Linked DNA regions of Homo sapiens: region 1 is linked to region 2. Evidence: fine-mapped expression QTL. Tissue or cell type: whole blood. Region 2 holds a variant in brackets; the other region holds the start of a gene. All regions are shown on one strand. Distances are from middle to middle.

The links. PIP is the estimated chance that this variant, and not a neighbour inherited with it, causes the effect.
Region 1: it holds the start of ZNF831, and the variant in region 2 is fine-mapped to the expression of ZNF831 in whole blood (INTERVAL, PIP above 0.99).

Annotation. Positions count from the first base shown.
Region 1 is chr20:59,159,909-59,168,015 of GRCh38, reverse strand. It overlaps ZNF831 (zinc finger protein 831), which reads right to left and starts at 4,195. Exons shown (of 6, transcript NM_178457.3): 1 at 3,809-4,195. RefSeq lists an enhancer at 7,845-8,107.
Region 2 is chr20:59,254,048-59,262,152 of GRCh38, reverse strand. It overlaps ZNF831 (zinc finger protein 831), which reads right to left. Exons shown (of 6, transcript NM_178457.3): 6 at 3,040-8,105. The coding sequence ends at 7,410. Among named protein-coding and RNA genes, the nearest start is that of EDN3, 43 kb to the left of the region's middle. The variant T/A (reference allele first, on the strand shown) is at 3,058.

The sequences.
Region 1 (8,107 bases), 94 kb after region 2:
CTAACTTGATAACTTATTATATAGCCAAAGTAATCAAGACTGTATTGTCAGAATAGACACAGACATGAGTAGAACAAAATAATTAAAAAAAAAAACATAAATCAATCTGCACAAATATACCCAACTGATTTTTTTTTCTTTTGAGATGGAGTCTTGCTCTGTCACCCAGGCTGGAGTGCAGTGGCACGATCTCAGCTCAGTGCAACCTCTGCCTCCTGGGTTCAAGCAATTCTCCTGCCTCAGCCAACTGATTTTTTGACAAAGGTTGAAAGCAGTTCTGTAGAGAGAGTGTAGATGTTTCAACAAATGATGCTGAAACAATTGACTTCCGCAGGCAAAAGAAAAAAGAAAAAAAAAACCTTGACCTAAACCTCACATCTTACTTATATAGAAATTAACTCAAAATATTTAAAACAGTCTTAAATGTGAAATATAAAACTGTAAAAGCTTAGGGGAAAAAAAGCACAGGAGAAAATCTTTAGGACTTCTAAAGTGGGAAAGAGTTCCTAGACTTGAAACAAAAAGTATGAGCCATAAAAGGAAAATATAATAAAATGGACCTCATCGAAGTTAATTTTTTTTTTTTTGCTCTGTGCAAACCCCTGCTTATAATAAGAGAATAAAAAACTAGCTACAGATCTGGAGAAAGTATTCACAAACAACATATCTGACAAGGGACTTATATTTAAAATCTATACAGAACTATGAAAATTTAACAGTTAAAAAAAAACCAACAACAATCCAATTAGAAAGTGTGCAAACACATGAAGCAAGTTATCACCAAAAACGGTATACAGCCAGCAGATAAGCACACGAAAAGGTGTTCAACATCTTTAGCCACCTGGGAAATATAAATTAAAGCCACAATAAAATATCACTTCACACCTGTCAGAATGGCTAGAATAAAAAATAGTGAAACAGCAAATGCTGGCGAGGATCTGGAAACACTGCCCACGTTGCCAGGATCCATTTCGGTGTGGATGTGAAGTGGCACAGCCATTCTGGAAAAAAGGGTGGCCATTTCTTAACAAATCAAACATGGGACTATTATTCAACCCAGCAACTGCACTCCTGGGCATTTATTTCACAATGAAAACTTACGTTCACACAAAAGCTTGTACATGAATGTTTCTAAAGCTTTATTTGTAATAGTCAAAAATTGGCATCAGCCCAGATGCCCTTCAACAATGAATATTTAAACCAACTGTGGTACATCCATATCACAGAACACTACTGAGCAATAAAAAGAAGCATACCGTTGACACATGAAACATTTGGATGAATCTCTAGAGAATTATGCTGAATGAAAAAAGTCAGTCCCCAAAGGCTACACACCACACTGAATGATTCCATTCATATAACATTCTTGAAATGACAAATTATAAAACTGGAGGACAGACTAGTGATTGCTTGGGGTTAAGGGGTTGGGGGGGAGAGAGAGAGGAGGAGAGCAGGAGGGATTTGGGGTGTCCACGACGCATCCTTGCGGTGACAGAAATGTTCTGTATCTTGACTATATCACTGTCAATATTTTGATTGTGATTTGCAAGATGTTGCTATTGGAGGAAACTGGGTAAAAAACACATGGGATCTCTCTGTATTTTTTTCTTACAACTGCAGGTGAATCTGCAATGTTCTCAAAACAAAGAGGCTAATTTATGAAAGTAATAAATACGTAAATAGAATCAAAACAGGAACAACCTTCCCAGTGTGTGAGTCAATGTTATTTACTGCAGCATCCATAGTGTATCTAGAACCGACCCTAGCCACGAGTACCACAGCCTACCCTTGGAGAAACACCGACTCTGCACAGACCATTTTCCTTTCATTTTCTTTATATCAACTCACTTTTTCTTATGTACCCTTATATATTCAAAGGAAAATTGACATCACTACCATTTACCATATCTGGAAAAGCTCCAACATTGCTATGAATACAAAGTGATCATAAAGAAACTACAAGGGGCTGGGTGTGGTAGCTCACGCCTGTAATCTCAGCACTTTGGGAGGCCGAGGCAGATAGATCACCTGAGGTCAAGCGTTAGAGACCAGCCTAGCCAAAATGGCGAAACCCCTTCTCTACTAAAAATACAAAAAAATTAGCCAGTTGTGGTGGTGAGCACCTATAATCCCAGCTACTCAGGAGGCTGAGGCAGAAGAATCGCTTTAACCCAGAAGGTAGAGGTTGTAGTGAGCTGATCATGCCACTGCACTCCAACCTGGGTGACAGAGCGAGATTACAGCTCCAAAAAAGAAAAAAAGAAGAAAAAAAAAGGAACTACAAGGAAAGCAATGAAAACATACAAAGATCTCTCACTTGGTAACAAGCCAGTACTGAGAACAAGCTTCCTACCTATGCCCCAAAGTCACTCTGCAGAAATCCCTGAGTGTGACCTTCCAGCATAACTCAGCCTTCCCTGCCATGCCACACCCAGACAGGCAGCATGGTGGGTAAAGTTCCCAGACCCTGGAGATAAGACCTGTCTTTGAACCTTTGCTCTGCTACCTATAAACCCTGTAACCTGGAATAAGTCACTTAAACTCTCCATGCTGTGTTTTCCTTATCTGAAAAGTGGGGCTCATGTTCATTTGTTCAAAGGATTGGATAAAACCATAGATGTGATTTGTCCAGACGTGGTAGACTCTCCCTGTGTCTGTTCCTGCCCCACTCCCCTAACCAAACAGCCTACCCTACCTCCCTTTTACAGTCTTGGTTCTCTGCTTACATGATGTTCATGGTCTCTACCAGGAGAAAAGTCTCTCTAGCTGGTAACTCCACGGCGCCTGATAGTGAGCCCATTTCCCCTAGGCAGGTGCTTTTGGGTAACCCTGCTCACATGGCACTCCTCCTTCAGGACCAACCCTCCCCAGCTTCCCAGCGGAAGCACAGCTAAGGAAGCAAATCTCACAGACCCCAACATTGCCACAGAACCTAAGTGTTCTCTCTGATTAATATTAGCCTATGGTCCTAAATACTTGCTCTTAGCTGGGGCAATAAAGCGAGGGTGGTTAAAAGGCATATTATTTTAAACTGGCCCTGACGTTGATTCTGTTTTTCCCAGTCAGCTAATGTTACCATTTTTCTAAGTTGCATCCTGTCCCTCGTTGCATTTTGGTAGATAACATCTCTGGTTTCATTCTTACAGAAAGATTTGCTACGGGAAAGGAGAAACACGTTACCTCTCAGAGCATGGCTTCCATGGCTGATCTGAGATAGCCTCCAGCTCTTTGCTATTTTGGATACTGGGAAGTCAGATATGTGTATAAATACATGGACTATTGGCCCTTGTAAATCTCATTGAAAAATGCTACCCTTGGGTGGCTGATCAGTAGAATTGCTATAAATAGTAGCTCTATCAAATACCTTGATATTTCAATTATATTATATACAAATAAAAAACTTGGCCTAATAAAACATACATATATATGTGTATATATATACCACACATACTTGGGCTAATATGTTCTAACCAATTCACACTTTCAGTTTAATTAGGTTCATCACTGGGAAAAAAAACAGTTTATAAAGCAATAAATTTTCTTATAAATGTTTTTCTGTTTAGTAGAACATGGATTGTGGACCTGGTTTCTGACAGCCATTTTGAATTGTAGTAAATATTTTGACAAAAGCAACAGCAGTATTAAGCACATGAGAGAATTACTTGAACTGGGTCACACACAGTTTTACGTAGCATTTTCCCTTTAACTGCGTGCTTGAAGATAAATATATCATTAAGAACATAGAGTAAAAGAGTTTTTTTTTAACTGACATTTTATATATGCTTATGTCATGGAGCATGTTACATACCTTTATAAACAGTGGAGTGTTTTCAGCCAATGATGCTCTGATTCAAACACAATGATCTGGTTGCCCAGAGAAGACACCCACAGGTCCAGAAAGGACCACTGGGCTGGCCCCACAGAGAAGAGATGAGCTCAAGAGCCCGTGCTCTCACTCTCTGTAGGGAGCTCGCTACTCTTTGCTGAGAGGGCATTTTAGTGTTCTCTCCCAGTTCCTACTCTGCAGGCAGCATCTCAGAGAACGGAGAGATGCTCCCTGAGCCTTAGAAAATAAAATAAAATAAAAGAGGGCAGCCTCCTGTGGCTTGGCCTTTATGTCAAGTCCACGTTTAACTGAGAAAAGCACCATTTCAAGCAACCTGGAAGAGACTCAAGCAGAGATAAAACTTGGTATGGCCCAGAAATAGGAAGTAAATTATTTCCTATACATTACCTAACGTCACGGTAGCAACCCTTAGAAAACAGGAAGAGATAGAAGCAGACACGAAAAAAAAAAAAAAAGAGCCACCGCTCAGCTCTTTAGTAATTGTTACTATTGACCTAACAACCTATAAAGAGCTTGCTGCCCAGAAATGTAGGTGTGCAAAAAAACATTGCATTAGAGATGAGGTTGTTCTGTGCAGGCAAGTTTAAGAATTAGAGCCTAGGTGGTCGTTTTCCTGGAGATGTGGATGGAACAAGTGTTTGCAGAACCTCCACATGTAACCCCAGAGGTTCCTGAGGGCCCAGAATGAGCATTTCCACTGCAATTGACTATGGTGGGAGGTCCCAGTGAAAGATTTCTGCGATGCTGTCTTTATGTAAAATGGTGATATTTTGTTCAACATGGATTTGTTTGAATTAGGTTTTATTTTTAAGATATGGCACTGATCACTCTATTCAACATAGTACTGAAAATCCTAGCCAGAGCAATCAGGCAAGAGAAAGAAATAAAAGGCATCCAAATAGGAAAAGAGGAAGTCAAGTTATCTCTCTTCACTGATGATATGATTCTATATCTAGAAAACCCTAAAGTTGCCACCAAAAGACTCCTAGACCCAATGAATGACTTCAGTAGTTTAAGGATACAAAAATCAATGTACAAAAATCAGTAGCATTTCTATACACCAGTAATGTTCAAGCCGAGAGCCAAATCAAGAACACAATCCCATTTACAATAGCAACACACACACACACACACACACACACACACACACACACCTAGGAATACATCTAACCAAGGAGGTGAAAGATCTCTACAAGGAGAACTACAAAATACTACTGAAAGAAAACAAACAAATGATAAAACACTCCATGCTCATGGATTATAAGACTCAATATCATTAAAATGTCCATACTGCTCAAAGCAATTCAACACTATTCCTATCAAATTACCAATGTCATTTTTCACAGAATTAGAAAAAAACTATTCCAGAATTCATATGGAACCAAAAAGGAGCCCGAATAGCCAAAGCAATCCTAAGCAAAAATAACAAAGCCAGAGGCATCACATTATCTGACTTCAAACTATACTACAAGGCCACAATAACCAACACAGCATGGTATTGGTATAAAAATAGACACACAGACCAATGGAACAGAATAGAGAACCCAGAAATAAAGCTGCACACCTAAAACCAACTGATTTTCAACAAAGTCAACAAAAATAAACAGTGAAAGAAAGGACCCCCTATTCAATAAATGGTGCTGGGGAAACTAGCTAACCATATGCAGAAGAATGTTGAATAGAGTGATTAGTGCCACTCTAATTCCAGAATGAAACTGGACTCTTACCTCTCAATATATACAAAAATTAACCCAAAATGAATTAAATACTTAAATGTAAGACTTCAAACTATAAAAATCCTACAAGAAAACCAAGGAAATACTCTTCTGAATGTCAGCCTAGACAAAGAATTTAAGACTAAGTCCTCAAAAGCAAATGCAACAAAAATAAATATTGACAACTGGTACCTAATTAAACCAAAGTGTTTCTATGTAGCAAAAGAAATAATCAACAATGTAAACAGACAACCTATGGAATGGGAGAAACGATTTGCAAACTATGCAGCCAACAGAGGTCTAATATTCAGAATCTATAAGGAACTTAAACAAACAACAACAAAACCATTAAAAAGTGAGCAAAGGTCATGAAGAGACACTTCTCAAAAGAAGACATGCAAGCAGCCAACAAGCATATTTTAAAAATGCTCATCATCTCTGATTATCAGAGAAATGCAAATCAAAACCACAATGAGATACCATCTCACAGCAGTCAGAATGGCTATGACTAAAAAGTCAAAAAATAACAGATGTTGGTGAGGTTGCAGAAAAAAAAGGGAACACTCACACATTGTTGGTGGGAATGTAAATTAGTTCAACCCCTGTGGAAAACAGTTTGGATATTTCTTAAAGGACTAAAAGTAGAACTACCATTCGACCCAGCAATCTCATTACTGGGTATCTACCCAAAGGAAGATAAATCATTCTACCAAAAAGACACCTGCACTCGTATGTTTATCACAGCACTATTCACAAATAGCAAAGGCATGGAATCAACCTGGGTGCCTGTCAACGGTAGACTGGATGAAGAAAAAGTGGCATATATACACCACGGAATATACAAAGCCATAAAAATAATAAAATCATGTATCCATGCAGCAACATGTAATCCCATGCCTGTAATCCCAGCACTTTGGGAGGCCAAGGCAGGCGGATCACTTGAGGCCAGGAGTTTGAGACTAGCCTGGCCAACATGGTGAAACCCCATTTCTACTAAAAATACAAAAAATTAGCCGGGTGTGGTGGTGCACACCTGTAGTCCCAGGTACTCAGGAGGCTGAGGCAGGATAATAGCTTGAACCCAGGAGCCAGAGGTTGCAGCAAGCTGAGATCATGCCACTGCACTCCAGCCCGGACTACAGAGCGGGACTCCATCTCAAAAAAAAACAAAAAAAAACAAAGACAGTGAGAGTGACTGTAATGTATGGGGTTTCTTTGGGGGTGTTGAAAATGTTCTGGAATTAGATCACAGTGATGGTTGCACAACCTTGTGAATATACTAGAAGCCACTGAATCCGACACTTTAAAAGGGTGAATTGCATGGTATGTGAGTTATATCAATTCAATATAACAAATAAATCCATCACTCCCATTCTAATTTTTCTAAGCACCATGGTACAGATAGACTCTCCAGAGCATGCAACCAATAACCAATGAACTAAGCATGTGGCAACAGTCACCAAAGAAAAAGAAAAATCATTTCCAAAGAATTGTTAACTTGCTTTCTCAGGCCCTTTTTTCTGAAGGAAACAAACAAACACAAAGATATCTCACTCACTTGCCAAGAGCAAGCCTCATTCGGAAAACTGCAGTCTGCATTGACTATTCTTTCAAACAAAACTACCTCATGCAGCTAGAAAAAAAAAAAAAAAGCAGCAAAACCAGGAGGAGACATGAGAAATCCTGTGTGTCCGAGGGAGACTCACGGGTAGAAAGAATAACTCTCTCATTGGCCATGCCCCTCTGGTCTTGCACCATCAGACACACATGCCAGTCCAGAAGCTGTGGTCAGGAGGAGCAGGGACACCCTTCACCTTTGCAGTTCAGTCCCTGGGCCCTTCTCCAGACCCCAAATGTGCAGTCACGTGGCAGGAAGCCCCAGGGAGAGGGGCTGGAGCAGCGCTCTGAGTGGAGCCACCTGGTACACTCAGGGCTAAGTGTGTGGCTGGGTCTCAGCAGGAAACTCGGCCTTGGGGAGCCAACGCAGCCTCACAAGCAAGCTGGGGATGAAGGAGCACCTCTGGGGCCTCAGAGGAATTCGATCAAGAGCGTCCATGAGACAAGCCCCCTGGGCTCCTGCACGGCCCCTCGCCACATCCTTCCTCCCCCCACCATCATGATCCTCTTCTGGGAATTGAACTCATGGCCCCAAGAGTATGTGTCAAATAAATGAATGGGAATAGATGGATATTTCTTGTGTCTATTTTAACCCTCTTATATATACCAAGGAACACAATTTGTGAAGACCCAAGTCCTCCCAAGGTCAGCCATGATGGGTGGTCCTCTCTCCTCTTCTGGAGTCTCCCCAGGGCTGGGCACCTGACAGCCTGTCTTTCGTTCCTGTGGATCCGTCCATTCTCTGGTCTGTGGAGCTTGGTGTCGTGAGCGACTGTAGGAATGTTCGTCTCTGCCTTGGCTGTGCCTGGCCTCACAATGGAACCCAGCATCCAGCACAGGGCCTGGCACAGAGCCAGCCCTCAGTCCACACCTGCTGAATGACAGAGAACTGCGACTCCCTCACTTCCCTGAACTTGCTGGAGAGACC
Region 2 (8,105 bases):
ACAGAGCTCTGCTTAACAGGAGCTAGAATAACTAGGGAACCTAACAGCAAATACACCGTTTAGGTTAGCTTGATGGTTCCCCGAGTGCACTGGGTAGACCACTGGTAATTTGAAGATGATATTTAACTGGCACATGAACAATTTTTGATAGTTTTACTACATTTTAATGCATATTTGAAAATAACTCGAAAATTCAGCAAGTTTTCATAGACATTATTGCTTAGAGCAATAATTGCTTCTTTAACAGAGATAACTTAAATAAAAGTATTAAGTAAATAACATACCCACATGTGGCATCTTGATGCATAGGGCAAAAAGCATTAAGATGGTTCTCAAATGACTGAAGTTTGGAACAAATAGATTAATTATAATAATGGCGATTACAGTTTGATGAGTTTGGAAAAAAAGCTATTAAGAGCCATCAATTAGTAAATCTGTTCCTTCCGTATCCTCAATCCCACTTTTCCCTCCAACGAATTGTGCCCCACTGACTTCAAGTGTCTTCAAGAGGTATGTAAATAGACTAATAATATTGTGTTGGGCTGTAAGTCTACCTATTCCTGCAAGGAGTACATAAATCACCTTCATAAGAAGCTATGATTTTGGTTTAAGGACATGGTGAAACCCCGTCTCTACTGAAAATACAAAAATTAGCCCGGTGTGGTGGCGTGCACCTGTAATCTCAGCTACTTGGGAGGTTGAGGCAGAAGAATTGCTTGAACCAGGGAGGTGGAGGTTGCAGTGAGCCAAGATCACACCACTGCACTCCAGTCTGGGGCAACAGAGTGAGACTCCATCTCAAAAAAAAAAAAAAAAAAAAAAGAAGGAAGGGGTTGGGCTATATTATTTATCTTAGACTCTTTCTTTCTTCCCTATTTACTCTCGGTGAGCCATTTTCATTTGTTTACTCAGCAAAAGTGCACTAATGCCTGCTATGAGCCAGGCACTCTTCCAGCAGCTAAGAAAACCAAGATAAAGACACCATGGGCTCTGCCTCCAGGGAGCTCCCTTTTGGGCCATATACATAGTCATCTCATTTCCTAACTCATCGGCCCTAGTCCACCCAGTTATTTTAACAAGGGGAGGACTTTTGAGGAAGTTTTCAATATGTTCAGTGTGTGTGTGTGTGTGTGTGTGTGTGTGTGTGTGTGTGTGTGTATGTATGTAAGGAGGGTTCCTTCAGGCAAATATGTCCAACTAGAGTATTCGCATTTGTGGTTTACACATCATGTAGAAAAAGCAAGGCTAGATATCTGGCCTTTCATGTATGATGGAGCCAAGAAGCCTCAATCATGCTGCATTAATACCCCATTGCACACAATATACACACAGAAGGCAACCAGATCTCTGTGGCCACAGACAGAACTGGGCCACTCTTTCCCAGGTGCTGCAGGTACAAACCTCTCATTCCCAATAGGAATGAGATATCCATTCACTCATACCTCACACGGAAAAATAATTCACCTATTTCTGGGCTGAAATGGCCATGGACTAATCCCAAGATGCTCAATGGTAGAGGCTGTTGAATTTGCCTCTGGCAGAAACTGAAGGAAACTGAAGGCAGACTGTGTCTGTCACCGCTGGAAACAAAGGTCACAGATGCCACTGAGCAATTCTTTCTGCATACACAGCCCAAAGATCAACAAGCTGACACTAAGGAGACTTAAAAAGTTGCTCTCTGTGGTTCTTAGTACAGCCAAATCCATTTCCCTCACATTTAGAAGTATGGAAGCAGTTATTTCAGCAGAACTTATGTCGGTGCTTCTGGTTGGGCATGAATTCCTAACTATGCATTCCTATACATCATTCTGTACTCACCGACTAATCAGCCAACACTCAAAACACCAAAACAAACAAACAAACAAAAAACATATTTATGCAACAAAACATTATGTGATTATTCCTTTGAGACCAAAATCCTTTGATTTGAAATGTCAGTTATTTAACTCTACAGTTTGACCAAAGAAACTTACCCAATAATCCCACAATTCTGTTTGTGGTCACCAGTTCTATTGTCTTGGAGAAAAAATGGAGACAGAGCTCTGCTTCATAGAAGCCAGAATAACTAGAAAACCTAACAGCAAACATACTGTTTAGGTTAGCTCGATGTTTCCCCAAGTGCACTGGGTAGACCACTGGTAATATGAAGATGGTATTTAACTGGCACATGAACAATTTTTAATAGTTTTACTACATTTAATGCATATTTGAAAATATACTTAACTCGAAAATTCAACAAGTTTTCATAGACATTATTGCTTAGGGCAATAATTGCTTCTTTAACACAGAGATAATTTAAATAAAAGTATTAAGTAAAAAATATACCCACATGTGGCATCTTGATACATATGGCAAAAAGCATTAAGATGGTTCTCAAATGACTGAAGTTTGGAACAAATAGATTAATTATAATAACGGCGATTACAGTTTGATGAGTTTGGGGAAAAAAGCTATTAACTGCCATCAATTAGTATACCTGTTCCTTCCATATCCTCGATCCCACTTTTCCCTCCAATGAATTGTGCCCCACTGACTTCAAGTGTCTTCAAGAGGTATGTAAATAGACTAATAACATTGTGTTGGGCTGTAAAAGTAAGTCTACTTATTCTTGCAAGGAGTACATAAATCACCTTCATAAGAAGCTATGATTTTGATTTAAGGATGTTTTCTCTGTTAATGAATAATGCTAAATGTCCAGAAAACATCAAATCCAAGGGGAAAAGATTCTGGATTATTGCACTGTGGTTCGTGCCCTCCTGTGGCTTCAGAGTTTCGCTACATTTAAGAATCTAAAACCAGATTCCTAAGTTACAGACTATAAAATATGGCAGATAATGACAAACGAGCTATGTGTGAAAAGGAAGCACCACAAGAAAGTGAGATCATTTGACATGACCTAATCCCTTTGTTGAGTGGAATGGGATACCAATACGGCCAACGAGGCATTGGGTCAATGATTAGGAATAATCAGATGTCCAATTCATAAAGCATATGATTTGCAGGGGTTTTGGTTAAAATGTTAACAAATCACGTGAGACATTTGCATTTTAAGTTTTA[T/A]TTTTATCAAAACAAAATAATTTAACCATATAAAGAAAGAAAGTTCAACAAACAACCAAGAAGCCAATCATTTCCCTGATTGTGAACAACCAATTGAGTAGTAAATCCTGAACAGTTGACCGCATATACAAGACATTCCGTCATCCTCTAGTGCTCCAAGTGGCAGAGGCTGATGTTTTTCCCTGGTTCCTATTCTTCCAGTGGTGAAGTAATGTGCTCAACTGTTCCTATACTTCTTCAGACCAAATTATGTATATTCCTACGTAAGTGCAAAGCATGGATGAAAAGAATCATACAGGGTAGAAATCCAGCACATAAGATTTTCTAGGTTCTGACCCTTATATTTAATGGGTTCTGAAAAATAAGGACAATAAATTGTGCTTAAATATTGAGAAATGTAGTGTTTCAAAAGCCAAAGTGCCTCCCTACATGAACTATGGGAAGAACAACTGAAGTGAGGAAAAATACACAAGCCCAGCTTGCTGCAGCAGTAGAAATATGATCACCCATAGAGCCAGGCAGGTCATATTCTCCTCACCATATTAAATTATGTCTGGGGAGTTGAGCAGCAGCACATTCCGATAATGATGACAGTTTCCATAACTATAAAGATCTGCTGCACCAGGCAAATTCTGTGCAAAATGCAAATTTCTGTGCTGGGGAAAAAAATGAATAATGTGATCATTCTAAGTAATGAATGTAAATGCAAGGAAATACTTTTTGGCATGAGACTGCAAATTGTTTATCTTTCATGCCAAGAACTGTGGTCACAGTGCACTTCTGCAAGGTTCCTCTTCCGGTCTCAGCTTTAGAAGAGTGATTTCAGGAAGAAAAAGTCTGTCTTGCCCTAGGTTACCCACCATGCTATTGGCAGTGTTTCCATTAAAATTCAGAGACACCCTCCTCCATCTTTTTTTTTAATCACTTGGCAAATGAACCATAGGTTCTCCTGGTTACTGTGAGATGTGAACCAAAGGGGATTATTAGCTTTGTCTCAAATCTCAAGGGTTAAGCCTAACAGGAGAGATGAGCTGTTTTTCAATGTGTTTTACAAGAAGGAGGATTCCAGTTGTCCACCAAAAATCACATGACTTTGAGTCACTTAACAATGTAGGTTGCCAAGGAGGGAAGGATTGAAACCTCTTCCCTCCATACATCTTTAACGACAAGATCTAGCTGGGTGTAGGTACAGGTGGAGAGAGAAACCTGGTGAGTCTTGAACATCATGGGGAAATGTCACTTTTGATATTGGCAAAAAAAAATTCAGTGCCCTTCCCTTAGTTCATGACAGCATCCCTCTAACTATTCTCTGTGGAAGAAACTGAGGCATCAGTTGGTTAAGACCCTTACCTAAAGATATAATAAAATTAACACTGGGAAAATTAGCACTGGGGAAAGAAGGAAATCCCTGATCTTTAAACTCTGGTTTGCTTTGTTCTAAAATAAATTTGTTTTTCCTTAACCATCATGCAGTACACACTTGCAGAGTATAAAACTGTGGTAGTTATCAATTGATAATACTGACATTTTATTTTTAGTAACCCAAACTGGGTTCTAGGTTGTTAATGTTACCCTTAAAATGTATTCTTATAATTGTATTTCACTTTAAGAAAACCCATAGGAAAATTAAGATTTATAAAATCAGAGATTGTTCATTGCTTTATAAAAAGATTCTTCATTTAAAAAAAATCTTTACCTTAGGATGCTTTTAAAGAGCCAGCTCCCTTAGGGTCATTCAAAATACATTTTTAATTTTTAAAAAATCCATTGACATACAGCTTTTTCACAAATTCATGTTGATATAAAGTAAGGTACACTTGTAAACATTGCCAGCCACTAGGCAAAGACCAGGGAAGCAAGGTGGCTTCGCTACCTGCTTTACCTTTGTAAGAGATACAGGGAGTTAGAGACGAAATCAATATTCCGCCATATTTGACCTAGGTTGGGATGTGACAGCTGGCAACGGTGGCTCCTATAGGGACAGAGCTTCCACCATCATCCTGAAGTTGGTGCTGTTTGGAGCTATGACTTACTGATTTACAGCCAGTGACCCCGTTGATTCCACAGTAGCCACCCAGAAAGGAGGGGTCTGGAAGACAGCTTTTTTCCCCTGACCAGTGCCTCCTAAGACAAAGGAGCCAGTTCAGCCTACAGATAGGTTTTCTCCATTCCTACTGGAGAGTTCTGGTTTTGCTTTTAATTTTTTGAACTATGAGCCACATGTATAGGCTGGATGATTGCACCCTAAAATCTGGAACTCTGGGGAAAAAATTAGATGGAGCTTCTTCAGGCTCAGGTTCTTCACAGCAATAATTGGTGGAAGGTGCTTGTGTTTCAGTTCCTCACTGTCCCCACCCAAACTTCTTGCATGCAAGGCCTCCGTGGCAATGGTTCCCCATGGGGAATATCTTCAAGCCATTGAGTCCATGCATTTTAAGGAGAGAGCAGCTTCTCTATCAACCATTCTCAGAAAAATTGGAACCTGGAGATACATTCGTCTTGTCCAACTCTCTTATTCTCACTTAGGGAAACTAAGGTACAGAAAGACTCTTAACCAAGATTTCCCAGCTAAAGTCAGGACTTCAATCTCCATCCAAGGCTCAGACCATTTGCCTACACTGCCTCTCTCATTACAGTGGCATGAATCCTTCGAAAAGGGAGATAATCACCACATCGCTTTTGTTGGGTTTAAAAAGTACACTAAGTCAATGTCCAACATCCTTTTTACCTCCCTTCTTATGTTTTTCTTGGCTGGGCCTGAAATCCTTGGATATTTATGAGTGCATATGAAATGGTCACAAATATATGCTAAGTAACCAGGGAAGCTGGTCTGGCATTGAAGTTTTCTATGAAAAACACCAAAATTGGAAAATTCACATGAAGATACTTGAAATTTGACCATACTTAGTCACAGGCACAGACTGACTGAAGTGTATTCACATGTGTGAGATGCTCTGCATTGCTGCTGTGTCTCTGAAGTACAAGATGTCATATGAACATCATTACATCAAAGTTACACCAAAAGAGCTCAGCTACAAATTTCAAATTGTACAAAATCATACCAAAAGCAAGTATAAAATTTTATTGAAATGCAGCAATGTAAACCTCTTTAAGTTTCTCCTCTCCCGTGGAAGGAGAGGGAGAGGAAGGCAGTGGAACTGAGGCTTTGCCCCCCGGGCTGGCTGACGTAGATCTGTTTTCTTCTGCACAGGGGCGCACCGGCTTGGAATACTGGGGAATTTTCTCTGTGCAGTTCTGACGTGCACAATACAGAGGCTGATTTAATTTGACAGCAAAGTAACACTAAGCCCCGAAAATAAAATTACCGAGATGTAAAACAGCGTCAAAACTCCAATTAGTTTTGTATCCTTGAAGCTTCTGAAGGAAATCTAAAAGGCTCCCGTCACGACGAGCAGGCATCAGTTGAAGCTGTACAGATTACTAAAATGTAACCCTCTAATTGAAATTGCTCAGAGCACAATATGACAAGAAGAATCAGAGGAAAATAAGTGAATTTTTCCCTCTCAAAAAATGACTCATTACAGAGAGACAGTTCTATTAACTTTTAACACCGTTCCTTTGCAAGAACTAGAAAAACCGACAGTCTCAGAGATCTCCACAGCAAACGCACCAGGCACAAGAGCATGTGCTTGCATCATCTGACCATAAATAAGCATTGACCATTTGTGCAACATTTAAAAGTAATCAGCATGTCACCGGATCATAGGCATTTTGAAGTGTATTTACAACTCCACCAAGGACGTGAATTACTCTGAACAAGCTTCAGTTTTTTAATGTATCTGAATTTTGTCTCCAAAATGAACAGAAGTATCTTTGTGCCCAGTTCACACCCCCGTCTCTTTGTCAAGCTACTCCAATTATCCCAAGTGTGCTCTCCACCTTGGAAGCAAATCCTCAGTTTACTAATGGAGAAAGCCAGTTGCCTCGACTGTGTGGGGTCCACTTGTGGAGAAATGTGTTGATGGTGGCTTTCTTGGTTAGTGCCATTTGATTGCAGAGAGGCAGTGGGGGACAGGTGCAGAAGACGAGGCTGGGAGTCAAGGCCCAGTCACTGTGCACGTTGACCATTTGCAGAGTTTGCTTCCTTGCCATGTCTGCCCTGCCTGGCACCATTTGAAGATGAGCAGAGCACTCCCAAGGGGAGCTGGGGAACGCTGCGGCTGAGTTGGGGGTCAGAAGTTGGTTGGAGTTGGCTTGTAAATAACTCAAAATGGCTTTCCTAATCTGTAGGTGTTTCACAGATAGAGTTTAGTTCTTCCGCCAGCCTGACAACATTTACTTGTGAAGCGTCAACAGTCTTTTTGACCAGACACCATGTTTCTCTGGAAGCTTCATATTTCTATAACTAATCGGTCTTCATCGTCGCTGCTGGTGTCACTGAACTCTACTCGAGTTTGCTTTCTCATTCCTTCCAGACTCCTCTTCTTGAGGGATTTAGAAGGGGCTTCAGGAATTTCTATGGGCTGCTCTGGCTTAGAAGGAACCACAGAATCTTTCCGAGTGATTAATCCAGATACCTGACGTTTCCTACCGTCACTTCCTAAAGAGGGGCAGGGGACAGTCATTTCCCCACACCCATACTGGCCTCTGGAAGGAAAAAACGTCTTGTGTCTCCCTTCCTTGTGGTGTGAACTAGCTGAACTTGGTCCTGAAGCTGGTATTTCAAGATGAGTTTTTTCAGTTGACTCCAGTGGAACCGAATCTGAAATTCTTTGTCCAGATGAAGGTCTCCCTGGCAAGAGGGTCTGTGCTCTGCCCTCTTCTGTGACTTTGCTGTCTGGGGAGCTTGATGTCAGAGTCCTCCCTGCAGTCTGGCTGTGGTCTCGTGATTCAGCACTGTGAATTTCCTGGGCTATGTGATCTGTTCTCACTGGCAGAGAAATACAAACGGCAGCCACAGAGGTAGCAATGTCATGGTGGGGAAAAGTTCCTTTGGACCCAAAGGAAGAAGGCCTTTGAGCATCTGAGAAGATGTATGGTTTGGGATCTGTTGAGACTGAATCCTGGGAGGCCAGCAGCTGAGTCTC